Homo sapiens: one gene and its partner. The protein of the gene in region 2 interacts with the protein of the main gene of each other region in a pairwise test. Each region holds a gene or a part of one and is shown on either strand. Other genes may lie near its edges.

The links.
Region 1: the proteins of MTMR1 (region 2) and CASS4 interact in a two-hybrid assay, tested with the Homo sapiens proteins (one large-scale study listed by IntAct).

The regions. Positions count from the first base shown.
Region 1 is NC_000020.11:56,418,496-56,422,315, reverse strand, and holds part of CASS4 (cas scaffolding protein family member 4), read right to left. Parts: intron 1-3,820. UniProt on the Homo sapiens protein: Docking protein that plays a role in tyrosine kinase-based signaling related to cell adhesion and cell spreading. Regulates PTK2/FAK1 activity, focal adhesion integrity, and cell spreading.
Region 2 is NC_000023.11:150,734,605-150,738,424, forward strand, and holds part of MTMR1 (phosphatidylinositol-3-phosphate phosphatase MTMR1), read left to right. Parts: intron 1-859; coding exon of another isoform or gene 860-895; exon of another isoform or gene 896-1,097; intron 1,098-1,990; coding exon 1,991-2,176; intron 2,177-2,637; coding exon 2,638-2,844; intron 2,845-3,820. UniProt on the Homo sapiens protein: Lipid phosphatase that specifically dephosphorylates the D-3 position of phosphatidylinositol 3-phosphate, generating phosphatidylinositol. Could also dephosphorylate phosphatidylinositol 3,5-bisphosphate to produce phosphatidylinositol 5-phosphate.

The DNA of each region.
Region 1 (3,820 bases), on a different chromosome or scaffold from region 2:
AATTGATTATCATGGATGTGGCCCAAGATGGGCCCATGTCATACCAGACTGCATTCTCCAACTCAAAGTGCTCCAGAGATCGTAGTGTGTTCATTCACAGCCTTGCCACTGCCTGCCACCGCCAAGTCTATTCCTTGCCAGCTAAGTCCCTGAGTTATTGCTTAAGATATTTGGTTTGGGGAACTGTTGGATCAAGTCAAGGGGCTGACAATTTCACCCTTGCTCATGAAAAACCCACCGAAGGAGGAGGCAAGTAACAGAACTTCTCTGGGTTTCAGTTTCTTCACCTGAAAGTGAGATAGCTTCCCAGGGCAATCGCCAAAGTTCCCATCCAGCTGCAAAATCTACATTTCCCATGAATTCTTCTCTTACTCTTACCTCTTAGTTCATGAAAGCCATCTGAGGGATTACAGAGAAAATAACATGCAGGTGCTTTTCTCTCTAACTTCCTTTCCTTTCCTTCCCTCTTTCCTTTTTTCTTTTTTTAAGGAAAAAAGTGAGGAAAGGCATAAAGAAAGAAGGAGTTTTGTGTTATTTGATGGGTCGTAAGCAATTATGCCGACACCAATTAGAAGAAAACTTTGTCTAAGCCTGTGTTTCTTTTTCTCTTTTCTTTTCTAGAGACAGGGTCTCACTTTGTCACCCAGGCTGGACTGCAGTGACGCGATCACAGCTCACTGCAGCCTCGAACTCCTGGGCTCGAACGATCCTCCCACCTCAGCCTTTCAAGTAGCTAGGACTACAGGCATGAGCCACCAAACCCAGCTACTTTTAAAAATTTTTTGTAGAGATAGTCTCGCTATGTTGCCCAGGCTGGTCTCCAACAGCTGGGCTCAAGCGATCCTCCCACTGCAGCCTCCCAAAGTGCTGGGATTACAGGCGTGGACTACCACACCCAGCCCCCAGCCTGTGTTTCTAAAGGGTTTTGTGTCTAGCAACTGCCTGCTTCCTGTCATATCCACGTGCCACTACAATTTTTTAGGTAAAATAACAAATTGAGTCAATTAAAAAACAACTGTCCCTCAGCGATGTTACCCATGAAATTACAGGTTTGATGAGCTAGTTTTAGTTTGTTTGAATGCAAATCAAGATACACCAGTATTGTACAAAAACTGTTCTGTGCACCACACTTGAAATCCTCTGGCATGCCTGCAGTCAGGGCACTTCCATTTGATTGACCCGGAAGAATTCAAAGCTGGCTCAAGCTGTTTAATGCATGACAGAGAAATGAGTGAAGGTTCAGGCTTGTTCACCAAACTTTTCCATCTTTCTATGGTCATTTTTAGAGGTGCTTCAGGAAAGCAAGGAGCCACTCTTTTGTTTAAGCTTTTCTTCTTTTGTTCTGTTGGTGTGAATTTATTGCAATTCACTAGGTTTGTTCGTTTAGTTGTTAATAATGGACTACACATAAACCCACCCCAGTCCTTATTTGGGATACCCAAAGGGGGCTTACCGAGAATGTCTTATGTAACTGGCCCTGACTCCCAGTGGCTGGCAATTCACCTCACTTTGGGGAACACCAGTGTAAGGAAGGAGCACCTTGAGTTGTTTGTTATTGATTACTGACTCTTGTGCTTCTATTCCCCTTTCAACCGTGGGGAGACTCTCACTTTTGAACCTGGGCCGGGTGTGGTGGCTCACTCCTGTAATCTCAGTGCTTTAGGAGGCTGAGGCAGGAGGACTGCTTGAGGTCAGGAGTTCGAGACAAGCCTGGGCAATATAGGGAGAGCCCCTCATCTCTACAAAAAAAAAAAAAAAAATTAGATGGGCATGGTGGCGTGCACCAGTAGTCTCAGCTACTTGGGAGGCTGAGGCAGGAGGATTGCTTGAGCCCAGGAGTTTGAGGTTGTAGTGAACTATGATAACGCCACTGCACTCCAGTCTGGGTGACAAAGTGAGACCCTGTCTCTAAAAGAAAATTTCTGAACCCAAAGTGAACATTCCACAAAGCACTTTTCACTTACTGTTAACCAGATGGCAAACACCTCCAAGACACAGGGATGACCCTACTGCTCTTTTGCCCCCTGTCCCTCCCTAACCCCACAAAAGACAGACTGCCTGGGCTGTCCAGAACATGTAGAGCAAACAAAAGCTGCTCTTGATGATAAGGTGAAGCAGTTGTTCAAAGGAAAAGAACAATACATTCACTAACATAAACTCGTGGAGAAACTCTCTGAGTGGCCAGGTAGGTGGCCTCAAATTGCCTGTGAATAACTTTTTCACAGTCCACACTCATCTCCTAGAGGAGCTTTCTTTTGTTTGTTTGTTTTTGAGATGGAGTTTTCGCTCTTGTTGCCCAGGCTGGAGTGCAATGGCGTGATTTCGGCTCACCACAACCTCCGCCTCCTGGGTTCAAGCGATTCTCCTGCCTCAGTCTCCTGAGTATTTGGGATTACAGGCGTGCACCACCAAGCCCAGCTAATTTTTGTGTTTTTAGTAGAGATGGGGTTTCTCCATGTTGGTCAGGCTGGTATTGAACTCCCGACCTCAGATGATCCACCTGCCTTGGCCTCCCAAAGTGCTGGGATTACAGGCATGAGCCACTGTGCCTGGCCTCCTAGAGGAGTTTTAAGAGTGCAGAGCCTAGCCGGGCACGGTGGCTCACGCCTGTAATCCCAGCACTTTGGGAAGCTGAGGTGGGCCAATCACTTAAAAACAGGAGTTCGAGACCAGCCTGGGCAACATGGTGAAAAAAAACCCACCTCTACTAAAAATACAAAAATTAGCCGGGCACAGTGGTGCATGCCTGAAGCCCCAGCTACTTGGGAGGCTGAGGTGGGAGGATCACTTAAGCCAGGAGGCTGAGGTTGCACTGAGCTGAGATTGTGCCACTGTACTCCAGCCTGAGCGGGGGTGGTGTGGGGGAAGTGCAGGATCTCCCACACTGAGAGCTGGGGATGCTTTCCCAGGAACAAGAGGCCACGCATATTCTTCTCAGTCTTCTCAGTGTCGACTATGCTTTTCGTAGGTGTGTGTACAAGGCTGCTCTTCCCCTGAACAAACACTTCATAGGCGTTATGTTTGGAAATGGTTCCTAAAAAATGTATTTCCTTTTTTTGCAACTCAAGTTGGAGTGTTCTAATCTCCCCCTCCGTGGCAGCTCTCTTACCAGCCTCCCACCTTCCTCCTTTTAAGCTATTTCCCCTTCAGGCCCCTGTCATTTCCTCCCTTAGTCATCGCAATTCCAAAACGGCCCTGTTTTGATTCTACAGTTGCTTCCCCATTCCATTATCGTGTCGGCCAATGCCTGTCTATTCTCAGACCTTTTAAGTTTTGGGGTGATGGTGGCATTCTCCTTAGCTTTTTTTCCCCCCAAGTGTGCTCTATAGGAAATAAAATGTTCAAAGACTACAGGTGATTAAACAGGGGAACCAATAATGAGTATGTGATGGATTTTTTATTAGTCATAATAATTATTTACTACATATGGAGAAAGGGGACCAGGCACTTGGACTTGGAAGCATTTAGAACAGTGCCTGGTGTGCAGCAGGCATTCAATATTTGTTGACGGAATGAAAGGTACATTGTGTTCCTGAATCAAACGTAACACACATAAATAGAAGCTATCTACTCCTTGATTTACTATTTTTTCTGCTCACAACCACTCCCCACCCGACACGGCGACCAGCGGTCTCAAACATCAAAAGTTCTACTTTTTTAAAGACAGAGTACACGATTCTCCTTCGTGTCCATGGAGAAGAGCAGGGTACCACCCCAGTGGAAAATGAAGCCACCTACACTGAAGTCTCCACGTTTACCAGCTTTTGCTCTTTCCTACTTACAGCCCATCTGTTGCACAGCAGCCTGAGTGATCTAGAAA
Region 2 (3,820 bases):
GTTCATTGTGTTTTATCCCATGCAGGAGAGATAGAGACAGGACACTAAATTGTATATCTAGAATAATTTTAACTATGGCAGTATATGTGTCTAGGAAACAGTATTTTCTAGGTCTCCACTGGTTCTTTATATATAAGATTATGTCATATGCAAGTCGAGATAATGTGACTTCTTCCTTTACAATCTGGCTGCCTTTCATATCTTCTTCTTGCATTGGTATTGCATTGGTTGATTTTTATATGTTGAACCACTGTCGTGGATTGAAAAATGTCTCCCAAAAGTTTGTCCAACTGGAACCTCAGAATGTGACCTTATTTAGAAATAGGATCTTTGCAGATGTATTAATTATGATGAAGCCATCTTGGAGTAGGGTTGGCCCTAAATCCAGTGCCTAGTGTCCGTATAAGAAAGCCATGTAGAGACACAGGCACACACAGAAGGAAGATGGCGATGTGGCAATAGAGGCAGAGATTTAAATGATGCAGCTAGAAGCTGAGGAGTGCCAAGGACTTCCAGCAACCACCAGAAGCTAAGAGAGAGACATGGAACAGATTCTTCCCTATACCCTCCTAAAGGAACCAACTCTGCCAGCACCCTGATCTCGGACTTTCAGCCTCCAGAACTGTGAGAGAATAAATTTTATGTTGTTTTAAGTCCCCCAGTTTGTGATAGCACCCTTAGGAAGCTAATAAAACCTCCTTACATTCCTGGGATAAATCCCACCCGTTCATGGTATGTGATCAGTCCCCTTCATATACTCTTGGATTGGGTTTGCTAGTATTTTGTTGAGGATATTTGCATGTATTTTCATAAGGGATGTTAATCTGTGGTTTTCTCTTCTTGTGATGTCTTTGTCTAGCTTTGGTATCAGGATACAGCTAGCCTCATGGAATGAACTAGGAAGTATGCCCTCCTCTTCTAGTTTTTGGATGACCCATCATCTCTTACCTCACCTACAGCAGGAACCTTGAAATTGGACTTCTGCCTCACACCCTGCAATCTCATCTCCACATTATGACCAGAGTGATCTTCTTTTTTAAAAAAAACTTATTGTTACTATTTCAATTGATAAATGAATTGTATATATTTATGGTGTACAACGTGGTATTTTGATTGTGTACACATTGTGGAATGGCTAAATCAAGCTAATTAACACACCATTTTTTGTGGTGAGAACACTTAAAATCTACTCTCAGCAGTTTTCAGATACAGACTACATTGTTATTGACTGTAGTCACCATGTTGTACAGAGTGATCTTCTCAGTGGACAACTCTGTGCACATCCCTCAGAGCCGCAAGGCAGTGATATCCAGGTTCCTGAACAGGGTCTCCAAAGCCCTCCACCCACGGGTCCTTTCCTTCCTGTCTCGCCACATCTTCCAGGTCCATGTCTCAGCTATGTGAGGTTCTTTTCAGTTCCTTAAGCACATCCCACTGTTAGCTCAGAGATATGTTGCAGTCCTAACTCCAAGTACCTATAAATGTGGCCTTATTTCACAATAGGGTCTTTGTAAATGTAATTAAGTTAGGATGTGGTCATATTGAATTGGGGGGTGGGGGTTAAGCCAAATGACTGTGTCCTTAGAAGAAGAGGAGAAGAGACAGACACAGACAAAGGAAAGAAGGTCAGGTGGAAATGGAGGCAGAGATCAGAATGATGTGTGTATAAGCCAAGAACACCTGGGACTATCGGAACCTGGGGCAGCCAAGGAAGGATCCTCCCCTAGAGTGTTCGGAGGAAGCATGGCACTGCCGATACCTTGAATTCAGACTTCCAGCCTCCAGAACTAGGAGAGAATAAACTTCTGTTGTTTTAAGCCACTGAGTTTGTGGTTCTTTTTCCAGCAGCCCTAGGAAACTCATACAAGGATATAGGAGGTTTATTTGCAGATGAGTTTGTTGCTTCTTTAGTGGTCTGTATCTCATAGCACTAGAAAGAATAGAAAAGTTAATTCCAGATAATGTGATGTATTTGTTTTGTTTTTCGTAGACAAAGGGTGGAGGATATGAAAGTGAAAGTGCTTACCCAAATGCAGAACTTGTGTTCTTGGAGATCCACAACATTCATGTCATGCGAGAGTCACTACGCAAATTAAAAGAGATTGTGTACCCTTCGATCGATGAGGCGCGGTGGCTCTCCAATGTGGATGGGACGCATTGGCTGGAATATATAAGGGTAAAGAGATCCAGCACTTTATATGCTTTCCAGTTAAGACTTCTTTGTGCCTGTGCCATAAATACGTATATCTCCAAGTGCCTCTTGGCTGTGTGCATGAACTTTCTTATTCAATAGTTTCCATGGACAGCATCAGACTGGGGTCTTTGTGGAGGGCTTTTGTGACATAGTGAAAAGGGAAAAATGCTTGCCTTAGGTCAGGCTTTTAAAGAACTTCGTGGCCCTTTAATAAGGAACCATATTTACTCCTGTAGTTTTTCTCCAGTATAAGATTTTTTCTTTTCTTTTTATTTTTTTAATGTGATGCTAATATTTCCTAGTGATTCTCAGCTGATTGCCTGCCATTCTTGCTTGGTTTATTGACCAGAACTTCCAAAGCTCTCCCCAGAATTATTTTACATTGTTTTACATTTAATTGAAATTCAATGTAGCCTGGTCTAATGTGCCTTTTTTTTCTGAAGATGCTGCTTGCTGGGGCAGTAAGAATTGCTGATAAAATAGAATCTGGGAAAACATCTGTGGTGGTGCATTGCAGCGACGGTTGGGACCGAACAGCCCAGCTCACATCTCTGGCTATGCTAATGTTGGACAGTTACTACAGGACCATTAAAGGATTTGAAACTCTCGTAGAAAAGGAGTGGATAAGCTTTGGACACAGGTTTGCACTGGTAAGTTCAGACAGTGAGGTTTATGCTGGACTGTTTTGCGGTATCATATGGATGTAAACGTCATGTGTGACACACGTAAGCGCATATATACACACACACGTGCAGGCTTTCTCTTCTGTATCATATCAGACCTGAATTGCCATAATAAAATACATGGACCTCAGGCATTGTATGTTCCTCATAGGGCGTTTTTATTTTAGTGTATTTATGCCTTTTTAAAAAATTGAGGTAAAATTCATATAACATAGAATTAACCATTTAAAATGCTCAATTCGGTGTCCTTTAGTAAATTCACAGTATTATGTAACCATCACCTCTAGTTTGAAAACATACTCTGGCCAGGCGCGGTGGCTCAGGCCTGTAATCCCAGCTCTTTGGGAGGCCCAGACAGGCAGATCACCTGAGGTCAGGAGTTCGAGACCAGCCTGGCCAACATGGTGAAACCCCGTCTCTACTAAAAATACAAAAATTAGCCAGATGTGTTAGCGGGCGCCTGTAGTCCCAGCTACTGAGTAGGCTGAGGCAGGATAATTGCTTGAACCTGGGAGGCAGAGGTTGCAGTGAGCCGAGGTCATGCCACTGCACTCCAGCCTGGGCAACAGAGCAAAACTCCGTCTCAAAAAACAAAACAAAACAAAAACCGTACTCTTCACCTCAAAAGGAAATGCTGTACACATTAAACAGTCATTCCTCACTTCCCCCAGCCCCTGACAACCACTAATATTTCTGTCTTCATATACATTTGCCTTTTCTAGGTACTTCATATAAGTGGAATCCTACAGTATTTGTCCTCCCATGACTGAGTTACTTCACTAAGCATAATATTTTCAAGGTTCATCCATGTTGTGACAAATATCAAATTTTCATGATTTTTTATAGCTGAATAGTATTCCCTTGTGTGTATATACCACATGTTGTTTATCTGCTCATCTGCTGATGGATGCTTGGATTGTTCCCACCTTTGCTATTGTGAAGA